2 separate regions of the Homo sapiens genome follow, and region 1 is linked to region 2. The links come from fine-mapping of genetic effects on gene expression. A gene starts in region 2. The other region holds a variant in brackets. All regions are shown on one strand. Distances are between the middles of the regions.

Region 1 (12,040 bases), 84 kb after region 2:
ATACAAAAGTGAAGAGAATAGGACAATGAACCCCATTACCTATCCCCAGCCTCAGCGGTATCCACTCATGGCCTGTTTGTTTCATCTCCATCCCTACCTACTACCCCCATCTTTTTAAGTAAATTCAAAACATCATGTTATTTCATCTTCAAAGAGTTTAGTGTGCATTTCTAAAAGACGGGGCTTAAAGAAGAACACATACAACTGTAATAACACCATCACTGTCATATACTCTTTAAAAATGTATTTATGGCCGGGCGCGGGGGCTCACGCCTGTAATCCTAGCACTTCGGGAGGCCGAGGCAGGCGAATTGCCTGAGCTCAGGAGTTCGAGACCAGCCTGGGCAACATGATGAAAGCCTGTCTCTACTAAAATACAAAAAATTACCCAGGCATGGTGGTGTGTGCCTGTAGTCCCAGTTACTCGGGAGGCTGAGGCAAGAGAATTGCTTGAACCTGGGAGGCAGAGGTTGCAGTGAGCCGAGATCGCGCCACTGCACTCCAGCCTGGGTGACAGAGCGAGACTCCGTCTCCAAAAAAAAATATGTATTCACTCTTTCTAATTGTATAAATAATGCTTGCTTATTGTGAATAATTTGGGAAATAAGGAAAAGTTTTTCAAAAAAAGAAAAATAATAAGAAAAAAATCTAGAACGTCATAACCCAGAAATAACTTCTGTTAAAGTGTTGGTGTGTTTACTTCCGTCTCTTTTCTTTCCACAAAGATACACACACATAATTGGGATCATGATGTGTATGGTTTTGTATCTTGCTTGTTTTGTTTAATTCTCTATCATGCCCATCATGAGCATTTCTTCATGTCATTAAAATTCTTCAAAGTCTTCATCCTTAATGATCGCAGAATCACGGTGGAAATTAGTAAACTTGCTGGCTTGTGTGAGGCCTGCCCTATATACACTGGAGCACAGCTAACTCCCTCCCCTGAACAGTGAAAATGTGTCCCTGGACCCTAGCGCAGCGGAGGCCAGGCAACCCTAGCCCATGCAACGGGCAGCATCCTTGGCCTGCTCGTGGCTCTGGGCCAAGCACACAGAGCTCCAGGCATGCCTAAACCCCTCCGTGCCTCAGTTCCCTCGCTTGTGAGGTGAAGATCCTCCCACCTGCCTCCGAGAGCTTTGGCGAGGTTAAATGAAGCACCTGGGACCTACAATTACTCAGGCCTAGCTGTGCTCCGATCCAAGTCTGTTTCATTTCAAAGCCTGCCTTGAAGTGCCTTTTACTCCCTCTCTGACAGTAGTTCCCGGACCATGATGCCCGTTTTTTGGAACTGTGTGGGGATCTTTAAAAGCTGCTGATGCCCCCAGCTACTGGGATCTGGGGAGTGCAACCTGGATAAAAGGTCCCAGGTGATTCTAATGTGCAGCAATACTTGGAAACCGATGCCCTGAGTGTTTCTGCCCCTCAAATAGTCCCCAGTCTATGTAGCAGTCATTGATACCTGAAATTCTAAAGCAAACCCTTCCAGCTTCGCCACTAACTCTTTTTAAAATGCCAATATCCCTGAGAAGTTGTACATATTAAGCCCACCATCGATGAGCTGATTCATCACCCTTCGAGGTTCCTTTCCAATATCATAAGTAGCTACAGGCAGGCCTGGGTGGGACTAGGGAGGAGGAGTTGGGCCATCTGAGGTCAGGCCTCTGTGTGGGGAGGGCAGGCCCGTAAGGGAGAGAAGGGTGGCCTGAGGTGGGTCCCTGAGAAAGGAGAGGAGCAGGGTGAATGCGCCGCAGAGACACTGCTTCCTGCTGATCTGGAGGCCTCTTAGGCTCCAAGCAGGCGCCCCAGCCTGGAGTCCCTCCCCTGACAGAGCTCCACACCAGGATCCTGGGGGCACCATCAGGAAATCAGGAGCTCCAAATACCAGGGAGGGAGGGTCTTACAGGCACAGACCTTGCCACACCAGGGAACATAAAACTCTGAGCACGGAGGTGCACCCACCTGTCCATTAAGCAGGGAGCTCCAACCCTGCTCACCACTGGCTGGCCGGGACCTGTACATAGTTTGTTCTGCCTACACATTTGTTTTTCAATTTGAATTAGTTATCTACATTTAAACATATTCAGATTTCCAGTTTATCTTGAAATAAGACCACACAGGGCCCAGGGTCTCACCCTGGGCAGCCTGCACTCCTCCTGGCAGAGTGGGCGGACTTCAGGTGCCACCCATCCCTGTGGCTCCCAGGTGAGCTTCCTGATCCCGGCTGGCTGGGTTAGCAGCCCCCCTGACACCATATGTGTTCAAAAGGGAGCCTACCCTTGGCTGCAAGGAGTTCACAGTTTATGCTGGATGAGCCAGCACAGCCAGGGCCACCGTGGGCAGCCCACAAGAGGTAGCCTAATTCCCAGTGAGGCAAGAGAGGTGGGGAAATGAGCCTGTAGCTGGTGATTAAGAGACCTGGGGAGGGTGCAGCTGGCCAGCTGGTTCAGGCCGCATGCTGAGCACCTGTGCTAACCCTGCTACCTCTCTTCTTCTGGCAGGGACTGGTGGTGGCCGTCCTCTACTGCTTCCTCAATGGGGAGGTGAGTAGTCTTGGGTCACCCAGGTACCCAGGAGAGCTCCTAGCCATTGGTTTCCGGGTCAGAAGGAGCTACCTGGGAGGGGTGGTAGGAAGGGGGATGGAAAGGGTCAGAGGGAGTCCTGGGTCTGGTGGCAGGTGGCTTGGCCAGTTCTTTTAGGAGTCTGAATTTGCTTAATGGGAGCAAGGCTTGTTCAAACCATGGCTGGACCCTGTTCCTAGTTTCTCATTCCACAGAAATAAATTCTGTAGGTCTGGACTGGGGTCTGAGAAAGTGTTTTTTAACAAGCATTCCTGGTGCCGATGTTGATCTGTTCAGCAAATGCAGGAGGAAAGTTGGGCAGAACCCAGGTTCCTGACTGCCCTGCTGCTTGCTTAATGGGCGATCTCAGTCACTGCCCTGTTCTGGGCCTCAGTCTGCCCATATGTGAAACGGGTGACTCAGAACTGTCTGCAGCTCAATCCTTAGGGACCTCCAGATGAGCACTGACTCCTTGGGAGACTGCACACTCACTTTGAGGACTCGAGCCTCACATGGAGCATCTGGGTCAGGACCCCAGGCTCTGGGCATACAGAGCTATGTGGTTAACATGAGCTAAGGCTTTCTGTGACTACTGACCATCTATCTGGTTTGTTGCACTTGAATGGGAGTGATCTTTGATGTTTCCCAAAAATCAAATATCAAGCCTAGCTTCAAAGGTTCAGCTGCTGCAGCTGGGAATTGTGAAGGAAATTTACAAAGAGAAACTCCCTAGTTCCCAGATCAGTTCTGAGCTTGGGTGGCTTCCTGGGAATAAGTGGGGACCCATCTTAAATCACTTAAAATCACTGGGGACCCATCACTGAGTGGAGTCAGGCCTTGCCCTACCCACACCTTCAGACCACACCCTCCTCTAAGCTGGCCCTCTGCCCAGTAGCCCCTGTCAGTGCCCCAGACCTTCAGAGAACTCAGCCTCTGGCTTAATCCGGGATTCTTTTCCTCTCAGCCTGGGGGCCAGGGAGCTAGCTTTCCCCACCACTGCTCTTGTAATGTCAAGGGCACACACTTGTCCCAAGGTGCACAAGTCCTTTCTTTAAGACACGATGTAATGAGATTGCAGGTGCATGTGCCCAGGAGAGAGGGGACCCTCAGTAGCTACTGGACATTGGGGCTGGAAACAGTCAATCTGCGTGGCCTGCAGGCTAGGGGACAGGGCAGCTGGGCAGGAGTGGCAGGGCCTGCGTGGAGTCACTGGGGGAGTGAGCAGGGCTCCAGGCACAGAACTGTCCTCTCCTCCTGGGCTGATGGCTGGTCTCCCGGGCAGGTGCAGCTGGAGGTTCAGAAGAAGTGGCAGCAATGGCACCTCCGTGAGTTCCCACTGCACCCCGTGGCCTCCTTCAGCAACAGCACCAAGGCCAGCCACTTGGAGCAGAGCCAGGGCACCTGCAGGACCAGCATCATCTGAGAGGCTGGAGCAGGGTCACCCACGGACAGAGACCAAGAGAGGTCCTGCGAAGGCTGGGCACTGCTGTGGGACAGCCAGTCTTCCCAGCAGACACCCTGTGTCCTCCTTCAGCTGAAGATGCCCCTCCCCAGGCCTTGGACTCTTCCGAAGGGATGTGAGGCACTGTGGGGCAGGACAAGGGCCTGGGATTTGGTTCGTTTGCTCTTCTGGGAAGAGAAGTTCAGGGGTCCCAGAAAGGGACAGGGAAATAAATGGTGCCTGGGATGAGATTCAATCTATATTTGTCCATCCTTTTGCCTTGACACAAGGTGAGGGTGTACGCTCTTGCCTGCTCCCAATGCCTTCCCGCAGGAGGCGGGCTCCTCCCTGGTCCCCCAGCTCAGTTACTCAGGGACCAGATTAGAAGGCCCAGCCAACATGAAATGTTTGCCCTTGGCGGATGCTGTCTGTCTCCTACTGTAACTCACCTGGTTAGCAGCTCTCACCCAAACCTTCAGGACAACAGCTAAAATAATATGATAAAGTCACCACGGAGGCCAGGGAAGCCCCAGGGCCCCCAGTCCCTTTTACTATCCCCCCTTTTACTACCCCCAACAGGGTGTGAGGGGGACACCCCTATTTTTCCTGCTCTTCCACACAGATGTCCTCGGCCTGAGGCAGACACAGCAGGAAATGGGGCATGATCCCATTTCAGAGAAGACAGGTCCACCAAAGCCCTGTGACTTGCCCAAGCTACTAAGCAAAGAGGTGGCGGAAGTTCAGTCCAGGGCCTTTGACTTCAAATGCCCATGCTCCAAGGCTGTGTCTGTGCTCTCCCTGCTCCCAGGCAGGGAAGGACAGGGGCCATCTGCTGCCCCTCTAAGCTCCTGGGGACTTCAGTCTCACCCTCCACTCTCGTTCTTGGTTCCTTTGAATATCTGCACTCCCTGCCCCCATGTGAGGATGAAAAAGGACTCCATTTTTGAACGCTTCTGCAAAACCAAACCTACTAGTGCTCAGGGGGTAGCGTTCTGGAGGGAAGTAGAGAAACTCCCCTCCGTGTCAAGGAAAAGGCATCCTGCTGGTGGGTGGGTCAGCTCTACTCCCAGCTTTGGGTGACCCTGGACAAGTGCATCCCTCTCTGGGCCCTGACTCCCCACCTCCATACATCCCCTCCCCGTGAAGAAACCAGGGGGTTACACATCCCCTTTGCAACTTGTAGATTGCTCCAGGTTCCCATTTCCCAGGCTAAGATGCCGCCAGTGTGGTTGATGAGCTCTGTACTCTGTAAAACTGAGCAATTCATGGAAACCTTTCCAGGATGATCTCCATGGACTCTGGGCACCTTGGTGGTTCAACCTTAAAGCCCATGGCCTTATATCCTACAAAGCAGACAGCTTCATGACTCCATGCATCCTGGAATAAAAAATTTAAAACATCACAATAGACGTAGGTATAGGCACTCAGCCCAGACCAGGAAAGGAACCTGCAGCAGTGACAAGACCGGGGCAGAGACCAAAAACCCATGCAATTGCTGGGAGCCAGAATTCAACAGGTGAGGGAATGGGAAGGAGTCAGTGTAGAATGAAATGGGCTGAGGGCAATAACATCACCTACTTCTGGGCAGAAAAAGGACTAGAAAGGGAGCACTTTAATGAACAGAAGTACAGACGTGCTGGCAAGGATGGAAATCTCCACTGGTTCCTGGCCCCCTTCACCTCCATGCATCCCCAGCATGGGTGTTAATCATTACCCAAGCTCTCGCTGTTCCCCCTCACCCCCTGCAGAGTCCAGCAGGTCTAGATACGTGCTCTTTGAAATGTGTTCTGGGATTAAAAATGGTGCCCTGAGGCTGTCTAACCCTCACAAAAGACAGACACATGCACACACGGGCCTTGGGGAGGGCTGTGTATTAGCAGTCAGGTGGGCCCTCCTGGGAGAGCTTGCTCAAGAACTCTTCTCGGAAGGAAACCCACCTTAAGGTAGGGTTCTGATAGGCAGAGCTCCCAGAGGCACAGCCAGCTGCTAGAAGATGGGGTTATCCAGGGTTTGTAAGGTTTAAACAACGGGCAGGGAGGCAAACCGAGTCAAATGGTTTGGAAACCTACTGTGTGCAGGGCATTCTGAGGGAATCCTGAACTCTGCCTCTTTGGCATGACCAAAGCTGAAGCCAGGGACATACATACGAAGGCCCTTTGAGCTGGTGGAAGAAAGTCCTAGGCACTGATTGGACCCTTAGCTGGAAGAATGATCCATTCTTAACAACCCTGGGAGCCCCAGGGATTCTGCAGCCCCTATCCCAGCACGTGTCAATGAAACAGGCATGAACTATCCTTGGCTGTGCAGCTAGCTCAGGTACCAGTTACCCCTGTGCTTCCAACTGTATTCCAGTCCAGGGAAGAAAATTCAAGAAGGAGTTTTAAAATGTTTTTTTCTTCCTCTAAAATCAACATCTGGCTAAGCCTGTGCAGTTGGTGGCACTGAGGCACCCTCCTGGCCTCTGGCCCTGCAGACCAGGTGCAGAGGCCCCCGGGCCATTTCTGGCTGACCACCCACAAGTTATCGGCAAACAGGCAGCCGTTTCAAGGCCCTTGTCCAACCCAGCCCCACCAGAGGCCACATGCTGGAAAAGTCCCATTTTGACCATATTTTCTTGTGGAATCTGATGTCCCTGGAGGGGGCCTAAAATTTCCACGGTCATTCCCAGGGATGGGTGATGCTGTTGATGTGAAGGCCGCTGATGGCGTTCAGGAAGAGGAGGAAGGAGGCAGTGAATTCGCACCAAAACATTAGGGTGAAGCCGATGAGTGTGACTTGGTTCCTGAGGAGGATCACAAAACCCAGGAGCCCGCCGGAGGAGAGGACGAAAGACACCAGGAGGAGGATGGAACCCATGACCCACTTGCACTGTGAGTGTTTGTCCTCGCACAACTGGGACACCATGAGGAACTCCAGGCCAAAAATGGCGGCCACCACGGCCAAGGCGCCCACGCTGCGTACCAGGCCCATGCCCACGGCCAGCCCGGGCACATGGGCCTGGCCCAGGTCTCTGAAGCAGATCG[T/GCACACT]CTGGTTGGTGGTGGTGCAGAAGTGCCAGAGCCCGAAGAGGCGGTCCTCAGCCAGGAGCCAGTGCCCATCACAAATGGAGACCGAGGACAGGACCACAGCCAGGGCCACACACGTGATGATGAGGGTCCGGATGAAGGATTCAAAGAAGGACCGGCGGGGCTGCCTTTGGCCCAAAGGCCTCTGGGCCTGGAAAAAACCGTAGGAAGCACCCTGTCAGCCACAGCCCTGCCACGCCCCCAGGAACCTCTGCAGGGAAGACCCCTGAGCCCTCCATCCTGCTCCGCACTGTCTTATTCTCTGCTTGGTCTCCTGTGAAGCCCGGAACAGACCAGACCCACCGTTTGGGGGGAACCCTTCCTCCCTTCCAGACCTGTGAGCATTTACCATCCAGTATTCACCAGGCACTAAGAGCTTCCTGACCTTTCTTTCTTTTGTGATCTTCAGAGTGGGTGAGAAGTCCAAACCGACTGGCAAATCTGAGTCAGTTCTGAGTTCAGAAAACCTGTCGTGCCTGCATCCCATGACCTTGAGCATGCAGCCTGCCTCGGTTTCTTTGTACATAAAACAAGAATACGGCCTGGCAGAGTTGCCAGGGTTGTACCAAGCACTGAGACATTAGCACACCAATACACAGTTCTGTTTCCCTCCATCTCCCCAGGATACACGATTTTGTCCTAATCCCCACCCACCTGATGATTCGGGAGCTGTCCACGTTCAGCCCAGGACTCTAGATTATTGCCTCGTTTTTCTTGGTACTGAAAGTGACATTTGCATCTTGCCCTCAGACCTGTGCGGCCTGTACCCTACCCAGAGCTTGCCAACCCCATTGTCTGCTCCTGCAGCTTCTGGGCATGGGAAGGCCATTGCAGCTCTCCTCCACTTCCGGTTCAGCCCTGGAAGGAGGCGCCCCCACCCCGGTCTCCTGGCAAGCCAGGCTAGGTGTCCAGTGAGGTGTCTCATCTCACAGTTCAAGGACACCACCCGGGCACTGCACCCAAGCCCTGACCCAGAAAGCAAAAGAAAGACTTCAGGAACTCTTTACACAGCCCACAAGCCTCTCACAATCCGCTCCGCCTCCCCACCCAACCTCAGCTCCCAGCACACTCCCCTCTCCCCATGTCTAGAACTTTCTTTCCTCAGATGACTGGCCCTTAAGCCTGTAGTGGCTCTTCTGCAGCTCCTGCCACCCCTCCAGGACAACACCTCTTCTCCATTCTTCATGTCTCAGCTTAAAGTCTCCTCCACAGAGAGTGCTTTCCTGCCCACTCAACCCAGAGTCAGGCCCCTCCTGGTATTCTGTGTCAGGCACCTGTTCAAATTCTTCACCATTCTGAGGACAGTTTGTAGTTACATATTATTTCTGTCTCATTCCAACACTGTGTGCTCTGGGAAGGCCGCCCCCTACCCCCACACCACCACATTCTGTGTTTAGGCACTGCTGTGTCCCCAATACCTGGGCATTCAGTGGGTGCTCAAGGGAGAGCTGTGAGATAAGTCAAAGGTCATTGGCAACCACTGTCACTTCCGTCTGAAGCTCCTTTAAACTGAGTCTCCTGCACAGTCATACATTAAATGACCTGCTTTGCAGTGTGTCTAGAAGCTGCCCAGGTTACACCTCGGTTTGGGAGGTATGCAAAACAGGCACGCATGACGGTCACTGCTAGGACCCAGGAGAATGGAGCAGTGAGGAACATGGGGTGTGTCCTATGCCATGGGCAAATGGAGGCTTCCTGAGGCAGGTCTGGGCCACTCCTCTCTGTGTGAGACATAAAATAAAGCCCTGCTTCTGGGAGACTCCTGTGGTCAAAGAGCCCAGCAAGAGTATCTGCTCACATGCCCCAGACACAGGAGCTACCGCTAATTTCAACCCCAGGGATACAGGAATAAGGATGCAGTTTGCTTTCAGCACCTCTGCCTTAAGTAGGATCCTATTTTATTCTTAAACCTATGAGGTTGATAAAGTAGGAAGCTCCATGGTGGGTGTACAGAGAAGGAAACTATGCAGAGGGCAGGTGACTTGCCTGAGATCACTCACCTAAAGCACAATGAAGCTCTTTATGGCTGCCCAGACAATTGTATGATATGCAGGAGGTGGAATCCGTTCAGCGAATAAATACTGACTAGGGCCTTCTAAGGACAGGGCCTTTGTGCTAGGGGCTCAGTACTGAGCCCTTACAGCCCTCCCTACATGGGCTGTAAGCTCCTGGATGGGAGGGACCGCACTTGGTCTGTCCCAGCACGCTGCCTGGCCAGGATTCCAGACATGTCCCAGAACAAAGGGGAGGAATTCCCTGTGCCCCATGCCCTCTTGGTGAGGAAAAGGTGCGTGCAGAGGGATGCCTCAAGGGCCATGCCAGAGCTAGGACCAGCCTGGGTCCTAGCTGAGATGAAGGCAGCCTGGGTGCGGTCAAAAACATGGAGCTAAGAGTATGGGCTGTGGTTCTCAAACTGTGTCCCCATGCTCCTGGTGGGGCTTCCAGTGCTGAAGCCGGGTGGGCAGGGAAGCTGAGCAGGCTGGCTCTGCATCCCCTTCCTCACTTCAACTGAGCCCTGTACCTGCTTGGGACATTGGGGGTCCAGGAGTCTGTATTGCATTTTATTACAAAAAAAAAAAAAATCTACCGGTAAGAAAGAAACCAAAGGAAACTTTGAAAACCTGTGTCTACTCCACAAACCATTAGAGGTGTTTGTCCTTGGGCAGTTTCTTAACTTCCTGAGCCCTTGTTTCCTCATCTAGAAAATGAAGTTAATGACACTTGCAGGAAAGTCGTAGCCATGAAGGCACCTGGCAAGGTTACAAGGTCCCTAGAGAATGATAAATGGTCCTAAAAAGGAGGAGCACCACAGGCAGAGAACAAATCACAGGACCCAGAAACCTTTTAACCCGAGACAGCATGCTGGCTGGAAAACAGGCACGTCCTGTCCCTTCTCCAGCCCTACCTGTCCTAGGCAGACTGGACTTTAATCTCCAGGCCCTTAGATGTCACGTCAGGATCAGAAAGTGGAGACAGCTGACCTCATCTAGTTTCCTCCCGCTCCTGCCCCAAAGTAGGGCTTCATTTAAACTCTCTGGCCACCACTGAAACTCCCAGGAATCAAATGAGATCCTGTATATAAAGATGCATGGTACACGGGCCGCTCCCAACTCATGGTAGCTATTAATATTAATAACAATAATAACACATATAGAGTCTTCATTCCTAACCACCCGGCATCTCCACCAGCTTTCAGTGATGCAGGGCCTGAAACGGCTACTGGAGGGCAGCTGGACAAGTGTGCAGTGGAAAAGAAGGGAGCGGGGAGGTCAAGTCCTGCCCCTGACCTAGAGGACCCCTGCAGGGTACCTTTAGGCAATCACTTAAATCTCTCTGGAGCTTAACTGCTCTGCTAAAAATGTAAGCATTTTCCTTTTTCATCTGTAACCTTGCATGATTTCTAGTGACCTATAGAATAGGGTCACTTGACACTACTGGGCTACTGAGTCCAATGTCATGGTCTTCCTCCTATAACCCAGGGCCTCATGTGTTCCCCTTAACCAAAGCACCCCCAGGTAGACAAATTAAGCTCCTCCCAACTCATTCCGCACATCCCCAACATGTCTCCCATATTTGCTCCCCCTCATCACCCACTCTGCCCCTACCCAGGTGAGGCCATCACCATCGTCAACATCCTGGAAGTTCACAGCCTCCTGATGAGCCGGCCTGCCTCTGCTCCTCTCAGCTGCAGCCTGGCCCACCGCTGCCTGCATGACCCAGAACTTGCTTCCTACCTGTGTTTGCCCCCTGGCAAGTCATGGTTGTGGGGATGAAGAGTTATCATCCCGAAGCGGCCGGAGCACCCGCCCTTCACCTGGAGCCTGTGGCCTCCCCAGCTGAGCTCCCACCTTGCTACCAGGCTTCCTCCTCTTCCCCGTCTGGCAACTTTTGCACCTCTTAATTTAGCATTCGCTCCCCCATGCCCTGTTTCCAAGTCTCTCTCCCTACATGGGCTGTAAGCTCCTAGAGGGGAGGGACCGCACCTGGTCTGTCCCACCATGCTGCCTGGCCGGGATTCCAGACATCCCCCAGAACAAAGGGGAGGAATTCCCTGCGCCCCATGCCCGGCTTCGCCCAGGTGCCTAGGTCCTGGCTATAGAAGCGGTTTTGGGGGTGTCCTGTGGGTGGGGTTTCTCCCGTTAGGTAAAGGCAGGAGGAGCCAGTGGGATTTGGAGCCAGAAAGCCCTGGGTTTGAATCTTGATTCTGTTCCTTGGCCAGCCACGGAGGGCACCTTACTTCTGAGTCTCGGTTACCTCATCTATACAATGGGCAGAACGGTGTCTACTAGGTCAGTGTTGTGGCTGAGCGTTTGTACACGAAGTCAACGGGCCTCTCTAATCCTGGAGACAGTCCAGCGGATAGACTCTGCAGCGGGCGAGTTGCGCGGAAAGGAAGTTCGCCCGCTGGGCAGCGGTACCGCCACCCACTGACTTCCCTTTGGGGAGCAGCAGGCCCGAGGGAGCGGGTAGGAATGTGTAGGTTCTTAGCCAACATAAACATCGTGCACTACGCTAAGGAGAAGCCAAATCTTCGGAGACACGGGCTTCTTCCCTCGCCAGAGCCTTTCCCTGAGGTGTCCGCGCGACTCAGCAAGTCCACCCCCAGCCCAGCACCCCAAACGCAGCTTTGGGGAGGGAGACGGTCTTCCTAACCTCCACCCCCAGAAAGGTCTAACTTCCCAAGAGACGCATCCTCTGTTACATAAGCCTCACTTTGCAAGTCGATTCTGTCCCTCCACCCCAGACGCGCCTCATTTCTCACAAAGGGGGACCCTTATGGTAAACTGACCAGTAAGTCACTGGTGACACCAAAGAGAAGAAAAATCTTTCCAAATGAAGTTTGGGAGCCTCGGGTGCTTGCAAGGCCGCGAGCAGAAGCAGCCGGAGTCCGCGCCTCGGGAGCAGCTATGTGAGGCAGGCAGGCCCCCCGAGGTTGCTCCCCGCCCAGCCTCCTCCGGACCCAGGTTTGCAACAGGGGGCGG
Region 2 (11,486 bases):
AGTTTCTCCTTCTTCTGCCAGGCCCCTGCCTGCTCATCCCTACCTACCTCACAGAGCTCTGTTAATTAATAAGAAGATGCACACAAAAGAGCTTGTGAAGCCTAAGTACAAGGAGACCATCTCCATGTTGGAGAGGAATCCCAGTACCATGCAAAGAGCTCTAGGCACCAAGGAAAAACTTCCCTTTTGCCCTCTGAAGTTCCACTGAAAATCAACTGAAAAAAAAAAAGGCAGATTCATAGGCGAAAAGGCATGCAAATTTTAAAATGTGCACAGGAGTCTTTCAAAACACAACTCAAAGAAATGGCCAGAGGGTGGACGCTTTCATATTCCATCTTGAAGTTACAGGAAGAATGGGGGCTTATGGTGTGTGGCAAAATAGGTTGGGGGGTGGTGGAGAAGAGGAGGCCTGGCTGGTAAAGTTGGGCTTGTTATGCAGATGAAACCTCACAGGTAGCAGGCCTAAGAGAGGACAGATTGTGTGTGTGTGTGTGTCTTTCAGACAGTTAAGGTGTTGAACTCTCAGTTAACCTTTCTTAGATCTGGATATGGGAGGTTCCACAGAGAAAGCCTGGCTGCATCAGTGCAGAGTTCTCTCTCCAGATGCAATCTCCCCAGTAAAAGACAGCCTTGCAGGGCTACTTCTGTTTGGAGGCCCTCTGAACAGCCATCTCAAAATATGTCAAATAATAGAGTGAAATATTTTGTTTCCTTCACGACACAGGCTTGGGCTCAGTCCTGAATTCAAATCCTGGCTCCTCCCCTTATTAGCTGTGCTGATGGAGGCAAGCACTTATCTTTCCTAAGCCTCAAGTTCCCATCTCTTTTATGGTCTTGGAGGACTGGATATGATAACACACCCGAGCTTCCTAACAGACTCCCCAGCACACGACAGGTGGTAAATATATGGTTAGTTTTCCTACCTCTTCCCTTCTACCCCTATTGTGAAATTGTCTTAGGCAGGTTTTAAGGACCTTTCAGGGAGCACTTCAATCCCTTTTCTCAACTCTCTGAGAGGCAGAGCTTCCCATTTAAGCAAGAATGGCTTGCTACAGGCCAGAAATGTATTGAATTGCCCAGAACTAATGTTGTTTTGTTTTTTCATCAGATATCACGAAGCTCTGGTATAAAGCACGGATTGCATTTTTGTGTTGTTTTCTTTTTATTTATTTCAACGCCAAACAGCCATACGCAGCGTTGTTACAGAAAACATTCAAACAACACAGAAATCTGTATAGTAAAAATTGCAAGTCCTTACCTCAGGCACTTTGCGATGGATATTTAGGGTGCTGCGGTTCAAGCAGCCTAGGAAATAACATTTTTCTTTCTAGCCTGAAACTTGAACCAATTGAGAAATAAGATCAAGACAGATGCGGCCAAATATCACTTTATAAAGTCAGTATTGCAGAATGTGGTTTATACTTGTAGGCAAGTGGGTTTCCTAACTAAACCCCAGAATTAGAGAGACAACAGTTCATACTGGACCAGTTCCAGTAGAGCCTCGACCACTAATCACAGCCTGGCCCAGGGAAATCCAGTTACAGGCTCTCTGTAGGGGGGCACACTGTCAAAGGAAGGAGAGAGGAGGGGACCGAACTCATGCCAGTTCCTTATTCCAAATGCATCAATCATGTAAGCTGGCCTCACCTGTGTATACGTGCCTGCATGCATGCTTGCGTGTGGGTGCACATGAGAGAGAGGTGGGGGATAGACAGACAGAGAGAGGGAAGGGGTAGAAACAAGTCAGGAGCATTATAGTAATGACTGCTGCCCATGAGAAAGAAAGAAATAAGGGTGATTCCCTTTCCCCATATATCATCTCGTTTCCTGCCACTGTCATAGTGCTTCCGCAAACATCCTTGCACATTTCATTAGGCCCTTGGGTGAGTATTTATGTAGAAAGAGTTTCTAGCAGGGGGTTGGTGATTATGTATACTTTAGGTTTGATGTGTACTGAGCATTGGTTTTGGACCTAGGAGCTGAATGGATTTTCCTCCCTTTTATTTCTGCTGGGATTTACCAGCCTCAATTTACTAATAGTCTCTTCCGGTAGGGAAGGCTGCTAAGGACAACACATTGTTACCTTAACAGCTGCATGGCCTTCTGCGTAAGGGCCAGTTACAGAGAGTCGGGTCAGCCATGTAAGGGTAGATTCAGGCTTTCCTGTCTGAGCCTCTGAGTTGCAGTACCCAGACATGTAATGAATCCTCCTCCACCTCCAATGCCCTCCTCTGTCAAATGGACATCGTATCACCTAGGGGTGTGAGGGAGAATTAAATGAGCTGATGTACTTAAAGTGCCTGGGAGAAAGATCAAGAAAGGAGGAGAGAGAAGAAGGAAGGGAGTGGGCACCAGTGCAGACTAAGGAAAATTGAGTTTGCAAGACCCATCTAGTGCTGGGCCCAGTGGCTCATGCCTGTAATCCCAGCACTTTGGGAGGCCGAGGTGAGAGGATCTCTTGAGCCCAAGAGTTCAAGACCAGCCTGGGCAACATGGTGAGACTCTCTTTTTTATGTAACAGTAAAAAAGGGCCATCGCCCTGTACTAAGAGGCCAAAAGAGACGCCTTGTACTAAGAGGACGTCTTGTACTAAGAGACGCCTTGTACTAAGAGGCCAAAAGCAAACCTCCAGGATACACAGCACCGATGGAGAGGGCTACTGGGACTACCTGCCTGAGGCTTAAATAGCCTCCCAGGGGGTTCATCCTCAGGACGGTCCCCAGATGCCTGAGTGTACCACAGATCCTCCTTGGTCATCATCAAAGGAGGAGTTCATGGGAGTGAAACTTCATGGAATTAGCGCTAATGACTTCAATAATGAAAAAATCGGAAATAAAGTGCAAGGTAGCTATCGGGGGGAATAGATGCAATGGGCCTCGACTGTGTGACAACTTTCAGTCCGAGAGTGGGTATTATCAGACGTGTTGTTAGGGATGAGAAAGCCGAGGCTTACAAAGGTGACCTAAGTTGCCCACCGGCCCCCAGCGAGCTTGCGCTTTCTGTCCGTGGACTCCAGAGACAGTGCTCTTTCCGGACCCGGGGTTGGGCGGGATTGCCGCGTAGAAGGCTAAGCCAGCGTGCCCTCTCCTGGCCTCCTCCAGCTTGGGCCCAGCCTGCGGGAGCCGACTCCGGGTCCCCGCGCCCTCCCTCTGCCTCCTCCCCTGCCAGCCTCCGCGCCGACCCCGCGCCAGTCCCTGCCGGGTGGAGGAGGCGCGCCGGCAAAGCCGCGTCCTGATCAATGGGGCGGGCGGCTTAGCGCGCGCGGCCACCTGGTCCGAGGAGGAGCAGTCCCGGGGCCCGCCGCAGGTCGGGTGGCTCAGCCATGGCTCCTCGGGGCGCAGCGGCCGGCCGGAGCCCGGGACCCTGCGCGGGGCGCTGAGCTCCCGAGCGGGCAGAGGGCACGGGCAGGCGGACGTCGGGGCGCCCTCGGGGAACGTGCGGGCACCATGCGTCCCCACCTGTCGCCGCCGCTGCAGCAGCTACTACTGCCGGTGCTGCTCGCCTGCGCCGCGCACTCGGTGAGTACTGCGCCCTTCTGCAGGCTGGGGACCCGAGGGAGCGACAGTCTCGCCCTTTCTCCGGCCTCGGGCAGGATGCAGGTGGAGAGGGACTAGCAGATCTTCCCATGAGGAATAGGGACTCTTCCCTCCCAATCCTCCCAACATTAATCTCTCCCAGCTCTTCTCCGGAGGGACCCTTTCCCAAAGAAAAACATCGTGCGCGCCAGACGAAGGCGGCTCTAAGATGAATCCCTGTGCCCACCACCGACCCCTTCCTCTGGTCTGGCTTCTGAAACTCTCCTACACGGAAATTCTGGAGCCGCCCGTGGCAGTGCCTACTGTGTCCTGGGCGCTTTGCCTCCAATCTTTCCTTGAAACCTGGTAATCACCTTTCGAGGCTGCTATTATCACCGTCACTTTACAGACAAAGAAAGGAAAGGAAAGGAGAGGAGAGGGGGAATAAAAATTCTTGCTGCAAGTCAGAAAAAGAGGATTGGAACCCACATCAGTATCAGTCTGCCCCCAAACCTTGACATTTTCACACTCACGGGCTGCGGATGGGAAAACCTGAGGGAGCTCTGGCAGGAGCTTCTGGGTCTGCGATGGGACCGCCTGCCGCTCTCCCCACACCGTCTCGTGTGGGATGCGGCTCCCTAATGTCTGCGTGCCTGGTGGCTCCAGGGCGCTGCTGTTCCCCAAAGCCAGGTCCTGGCAAGGGGCTGGAGGAGGAAAATAATAATAATAATAATAATAATAATAATAATAATAATAATAATAATAGCGGCAGGATGGGTGGTTTGTTTTTCTTTCCAACAGAAATTCCTGGGAGTCCCGGGCCTCTCTGAGCTCCGGGATCTCTGATAAAGAGAGTGGCCCCACCCAGACCAGCAGAAAGGAAGGAATGGGGAGGGAGTGGGGGTTAGAGGTGGGGGCCAGATTCCAGAATCATCCCTTCCCACTAGCATTCCAAATTGGTCCCCAAGTCGTCTCTTCCAAGAAGCTCCCCAGGGAACGCGCTTGGGGACCCAACTGAGTCTCTGATCTCTGTCCTGGGCAAGTCTCATGGTGTCCAGCCTCCTTGTCTTCCCTTAGTCTCCTCTGGTTTGATTATAAGGAAAACCAATGCTCCCGGAGCCGACCAGAGTGTTGACACTCAGGAGATGCTCATTTTTCTGGTAGCCCCAAGACTTTCAGCAGCAGTAGTTGGGATGAGTGCAATTTGGAGCTTGCTTGGAGCTCCCTTGCCACCGTGGAGCCTCCTCTCTTCAGTGGCAGTGCTGGCCTTGGAAGACGCTAGAGCAACAGCATGCACTCATGAGTTTTGACTCCCAATTTGGAGAAATGCCAACTGGGATACTGGGGACAGTGCAAAGCCAGGTAGAGCCAGAAGGTGTGTTATTCCGTGGCTGGGGGTGGGAGAGGCAATAGCTCCTTCCTTGGGACCCTCCCAGCCTCCTTCTTAAGTATTTGCAGTGACTCTGAGACTGTCGTAACTGGTACCTCGAGTGCAGGACTGAGGTTCAGCCTACATTTTTATCTCAAGGAAATCCCTGGATTATCACAGGAATAAATGGAAGGGGAAAATGAGAGGCTTCACTTGGTTTAAGTCTTCAGTGTACCTTGGAAGGATGCTTCATTATGCTATGGTCCCAATCCCTCATTTTAAAAATGAGCACACTGAGACTCTCAGAGAGAAGGGAGCTGCCCGAGATCAGCAAGTTAGTAGTAGAGCCGGGACTAGCAGCTCTACTCGCCCCACATACCCCACTTAACCCACTAAGGTTAGCACCCAGATCTCTTGATTCCCAACCATCCAGGGCTCTGTCTTTTATACCCCTTGTATTTCCTTTTTCTTTTTCTTTTTTTTTTTTCTTTTGAGACAGAGTTTCACTCTTGTTGCCCAGGCTGGAGCGCAGTGGCGCGATCTTGGCTTACTGTAACCTCCGCCTCCCAGGTTCAAGGGATTCTCCTGCCTCAGCCTCCCAAGTAGCTGGGATTACAGGCATGTGCCACCATGCTCGGCCAATTTTTTGTATTTTTAGTAGAGATGGGATTTCTCCATGTTGGTCAGGCTGGTCTGAAACTCCTGACCTCAGGTGACCTGCCTGCCTCGGCCTCCCAAAGTGCTGCGATTAGAGGCATGAACCACCGCGCCCGGCGGTCCCTTGTATTTTCAAATGTGCATTACTGCCTTACATAATCACAAGATGGTTTCCTGTGTATAAGTCGTGGTCCTTGGGTTATTTTACGGCTTCTGTAGACCTTAGATCTCACACTTCTTGGCTGAGAACTCCTGTAATAAATAGGAGTGGAACTGACCTACTTTGGTTGGAATATTTCCCAGCCTCTGGAGCCCTGCTTTCCTTCTGTTTGACTCTGGGTGGTCACACATTTGATTTTGAAATCTAAGTGTGTTCAAATAATTTTTTATTCATTTGAAGCTCCCCCTTGAGGGAGATTATAGGCATCTTCCCAATGGAGGGGGGTCAGTGAGGCCAAATTGCTTATTACCGCTCTCCCTCTACTCCATATAGGGAGGCGTCAGAAGTGACCCTTGTAAGTGAAACCCAAAAAGTGGCCGAATGGGGCAGTTTTCTGAGGCCTCCCTATAAGAAATACTGATCACAGCCCCCTCTGCGGCCCCACCCCCATACATCTCATGAGAACTTTTACCTGGAACATTACTGTAATTATTTACTAACACATCTGTCCCCCAAACCCCAATATGCACACTTTGAACTTGAACATGGAGACTCATCTTGTTCATCTTTCATCCCTAGAGTCTGTCACAGTGTAAGAAGGAGCTCAGTGAGTGTTTGTTGAATGAATGCATGGATGACTGAATGAAATCATGCTGATGCAGCAACAAATAAGGAAGAATCACCTCTTGAAAGCACTCCTTACTTGCTAAATTGTACAGAAATGTGTCAGGCTGTAGAGAAAGAGTCACTCAAGGTAGGGCTTTTTAATCCATGACATTTGGCAAACTGCCAATTTGTTAACCTTAGTGAGTTAAGTGAGGTGTGTGGGGCTGGTTTTTCCTTCAAGCAGAGTTTCTTCACACTACTGACATTTGGAGCCAGATAATTCTCTCTTCTGAGAGCTGTCCTGTGCATTGTACAATGTCTAGCAGCATCATGGACCTCTGCCCTCTAGAAGCCCATGATCACTCCAAAGCTGTGACAACAGAAAATGTATCTCTAGACATTGCCAAATTTTTTCTGGGGGTAGGAAGGGCAAAATCGCCCCTGCTTGAGAACCGTTGCCTTAAAGGTTGTCATGTTTCAGGACAGATACACAGATAGGGCTAACAATAGGTATTCATTTCACATTGGGTTTGGGGCAGTGGGGTTGGTGATACGGCATCTGAGTCAGAGGATGGAAACAGGTGTGCCTGATGAAAACCAGTTTCCAAACTGGACAAAGGACTTCTGTGGAGAATGTTTCCTTGATCTATTCCACCCTCCCTTCCCATCTTTTTCCCTCCTATCTCCATCCCTCCTCAGTTGATGGCTAAGAAATATAAAAATTCCAAGTACAGGCTCTGGCACATGGAAGCCTTCAGTACATGGTGGTCGCTGCCCTGTCCGGTCATGCATCTGGATCCAGAAGCTGACAAGCCCTGTGGCTGCACAGTGAGCAGAACCTTAGAAAGGCCTGCAAGCGTTGCCTGCAGAGCTGGTAATTACCCTGTTGCCCGGGCTGGAGTGCAATGGTGCGATTATGGCTCACTGCAGCCTTGAACTTCCTGGCTCAAGTGATCTTCCCACCTCAGCCTCCCAAGCAGCTGAAACTACAGACACCTGCCACCATCCCCATCTAATTTTTTAATTTTTTTAGAGATGGGTCTCACCATGTCTCCCAGGTTGGTCCTGAACTCCTGGGCTCAAGTGATCCTCCTGCCTTAGACTCCCAAAGTGTTGGGATTATGGGTATGAGCCACCATGCCCAGCCTGGGAGCTGATTATTGATGACTTTTCAGAGAGGGTCACTGGGGATTTTTTTTGTGTACCTGGAAAAACACTTTCTAGTTTTCTGAAGAAGTATTTGTGGATTTCTTTTGAGATTTTTATTATCCCTGAAGTTAATAAGTGAAGGATGATGAAGGCTCCTTTAATTGACTCTTATTTTCTACCAGACACTCTGCTGAGTCCCTCCTAACACTAACACTCACTTCAACAGTTATTAGCCCCATGGTGCAGATGAGGAAACTGACACTTGGATAGATGTGAAGCCATTTGCTTAAGGCCACCCAGCTGGACATGGTGACATGAGACCTTAAACCTGGAACTTCTTTTTTGTTTTTTTTTCTTTTTTTTTTCTTTGTTTTTCTTTTCTTTTTTTCTTTTTTTTTTTTTTTTTGAGACAGAGTCTCATCTCACTCTGTCACCTAGGCTGGAGTGCAGTGGCGAGATCTTGGCTCACTGCAACCTCCGTCTCCCAGGTTCAAGCGATTCTCCTGCCTCAGCCTCCTGAGTAGCTGGGACTACAGGCATGCACCACAATGTCTGGCTAATTTTTGTATTTTTTAGTAGAGATGGGGTTTCACCACATTGGCCAGGCTTGTCTTGAACTCCTGACCTCGTGATCCACCCACCTTGGCCTCCCAAAGTGCTGGGATTACAGGCGTGAGCCACCGCAGAGCTTCTTAACCAGCACATGCATCTGCTCCAAAAGAGAGGCCTGTTCCGGGTTTCTGGTGCCCAAGGAGCTGTCATAAAATTATCTCCCAAACTTCAAAATAGCATTAATTTTCATTTAAACTAATCAATTTGTGAAACATAAAAAAATACTGAGTTACACACAGCATTTATTGAGGGGCCCAGAAATGAGCATGGGGTCACAAAATCCAACAGGAGGAGATACCAGTTCCCAAACAGTTTAGGGGAGTCCACTTAGGCGGAGCGCGGTGGCCCATGCCTGTAATCCCAGAACTTTGGGAGGCCGAGGCGGGTGGATCACCTGAGATCGGGAGTTTGAGACCAGTCTGAGACCAGTCCGACCAACATGGAGAAACCCTGTCTTTACTAAAAGTACAAAAAAATTAGCTGGGCGTGGTGGCCTGTAATCTCAGCTACTCGGGAAGCTGAGGCAGGAGAATCGCTTGAACTTGGGAGGCGGAGGTTGCAGTCAGCTGAGATCATGCCATTGTACTCCAGTCTGGGCAGCAAGAGCAAAACTCCGTCTCAAAAAAAAAGGGGGAGTCCACCTGCTTTGGCATCGTCACCCTTTGGAGTTCCCGCAGAACTTCCCAACCTCACCCTGTCCTCATGATCCCCACCCAGGTTGGGAAGTCCCCAGATTTCCTACCATGACAAGGGAGGACATAGCCTCTCTTCCTGGCACCCCCTTGCTGAAAGCCTAGATTTAATATCTGGGATTCGAGCTCCACCACCAGAACAGCCTCTTGCAGTGAGCCCCAGCTTGGTCTCTGCATCCCTGCTCTTAGCAAGCTGTAGGTTCTCACCACTGACCTTCACTCAGGCTTCGGGACAACCTGCAGCTCAAGGTAAAACCACAATACTCAGATGCTATCTACTTGCTTACATTACAAACAGAAGGCTGCTCAGCATTCCTATGGACTCCTGGGGCCCACCCAGCCTCTACATTGTGCGTCTGTTCCAAGGATGGCATTTGGGGAGGGTCATCCCTGGTTCATCACGTCCCGCAGTCTTAGCCCATTGTGCTGCAGGCTCCTGAGGTTCCCAGAGTCATCTCCAGATCCTGCCATGCCCCACCCCACTTCCCTCACCTGAGGCTCTTAGGCGTGCTCCTGATGGCCACGTGTCTTTCAAATTTCTCACCTCCCGCCTCCCTCTCATGTTCAACAGATGGGCTCACCTTCCATTTCCCAAGAGTTGAGACTACCTGGATGAACTTCTAACCAACATCTTGCCCTTACAGATGTGTCTAAATTGTACCCTCTGTTCCTTTCCTTCCCGTCTGTCTTAGTCAGCTGTGTTATCATAACAAAATACCACAGACTTGGGGACTTAAACAAAAGAAATTAATCTCGCGGTTCTGGAGGTTGGAAGTGTGAGATCAAGATCCCCAAGGGTTTGGTCTCTGGTGGGGACCCTCTTCCTGGCTTGCACATGGCCACTTTGTCCTCATGTGGCATTTCCAGTGAGTGTGTGGATGCAGGGGAGGGGAGGGAAACACCTTTCTGGTATTTCTTCTTGTAAGGACACTAATCCTATAGGATCAGGGCCCTATTACTACAATGCTGTTTAACCTTAATTACCTCCTTATGGGCCCTACCTCCAAATACAGCCACCCTGGGGGTAGGGCTTCAACATATGAATTTAGTGGAGACACATTCAGTCCATAACAGCATCCAAGTGGAAGAGAGGCTGTTCCCCAGACAACAGCCTGTCCCTACTCCTACCCCTACCGACTTCCTTCCCAGGACAACACAATGACAGCCATCTCACCCAACCTTCACCCTCTTCCTCTCCGCTGACTTTTCTCATCAGCTGGTTAACTTCCCCAAGTCTATCCAGCCCAGGCAGTAAATAGCCCTCTGCTCTCTGCCCCCTGGTGGCCAGCTTCCTGTAAGACGCGTCCACCTTCATTGCCTCCACTTCACTCACTCTCACACTGCAACCTGGCTCCCACGCTCCACCCACAGAAACCAGCCTCACCAGTGCCCTTCGATTTGCCACATTCACTGGATTCTTTTTTATAATCTTTTTTAAAAAATAAAAATTGTAGACTAAGCACGGTGGCTCACTCCTGTAATCCCAGCACTTGGGGAGGCTGAGGCAGGTGGATGGCTTGAGCCTGGGAGTTCAAGACCAGCCTGGGCAACATAGGAGACCTTGTCTCTACAAAAAATTTTAAAAATTAGCTGGGTGTGGTGGTGTGTGCCTGTAGTCCCAGCTACCCAGGAGGTTGAGGCGGGAGGAATGCTTGAACCAGGGAAGTAGAGGCTGCAGTGAGCCATGATTGTGCCACTGCACTCCAGCCTGGGTGAAAGAGTGAGACTCCGTCTCAAAAAAAAAAAAGCACTTAAAGTGTACAACATGATATTTTGAAATACACAGTGAAGTGATTACTATAGTCAAGCAAATTAACATATGTTTCTTCACAAAGTTACCATTTGTGTGCATGTGTGTGTGTGTGTGGTAAGAGCACCTGAAATCTACTCTTATGGCAAAATTCCAGTGTACGATACAGTGTTATTATTATTGTTATTACTTTTGAGACAGAATTTCGCTCTTTTTGCCCAGCCCAGAGTGCAATGGTGCGATCTCAGCTCACTGCAACCTCTGCCTCCCGGGTTCAAGAGGTTCAAGTGATCCTCCCGCCTCAGCCTCCCGAGTAGCTGGGATTAGAGGCATGCGCCACCATGCCTGGCTAATTGTGTATTTTTAGTGGGGACGCGGTTCCACCATGTTGGCCAGGCTGGTCTTGAACTTCCGACCTCAGGTGATCAGCCCACCTCAGCCTCCCCAAGTGCTGGGATTATAGGCGTGAACCACCACACCCGGCCCGATACAGTATTATTAACTATAGTCTTCATGCTGTACATTAGATCTCTAGACTTATTCATCCTGGTGTAACTGCAACTTCATACCCTTTGACCTATATCTCTCCATTCCCACCCCCTCCCAGGCCCTGGCAACCACCATTCAACTCCCTGCTGCTTTGTATTCAACTTTGTAATATTCCACATATAAGTAAGATCATGCAGTATTTTTCTTTCTGTGACCAGCTTATTTCACTTAGCACCATGTCTTTCAAGTTTATTCATGTTGTCACTAATGATAGGATCTCCTTTTTTAAAGCTGACTGGCATTCCATTGTATATATGCAGCATGTTTCTTCATCCATTCATCTGTTGAGAGACACGTAAGTTGCTCCCACATCTTGGCAATGGTGAATAGTGCTTCAGTGAGCATGGGGGCACAGGTACCTCTACGAGGTGCTGATTTCATTTCCTTTGGGTTTATGACCAGAAGTGTGATTCCTGAATCATATGTT

Which allele goes with the higher level. Alleles are on the strand shown, and positions count from the first base shown. SD is a standard deviation of normalised expression in the study named.
With allele T in place of GCACACT in region 1, the expression in breast of the gene that starts at base 3,190 in region 2 is lower (moderate effect, 0.42 SD a copy in GTEx).

Evidence for each region.
Region 1: its variant is fine-mapped to the expression of SCTR in breast (GTEx, PIP 0.93). The same link has a PIP of 0.9 or more in subcutaneous fat.

Annotation. Positions count from the first base shown.
Region 1 is chr2:119,432,058-119,444,097 of GRCh38, reverse strand. TMEM37 (transmembrane protein 37) reads right to left here. Exons shown (of 2, transcript NM_183240.3): 2 at 5,594-7,209. The coding sequence ends at 6,658. SCTR (secretin receptor) reads left to right here. Exons shown (of 13, transcript NM_002980.3): 12 at 2,499-2,540; 13 at 3,841-4,255. The coding sequence ends at 3,981. Among named protein-coding and RNA genes, the nearest start is that of TMEM37, 6.2 kb to the right of the region's middle. RefSeq lists an enhancer at 11,303-11,809. The variant T/GCACACT (reference allele first, on the strand shown) is at 7,023.
Region 2 is chr2:119,516,187-119,527,672 of GRCh38, reverse strand. It overlaps SCTR (secretin receptor), which reads left to right and starts at 3,190. Exons shown (of 13, transcript NM_002980.3): 1 at 3,190-3,518. The coding sequence starts at 3,447.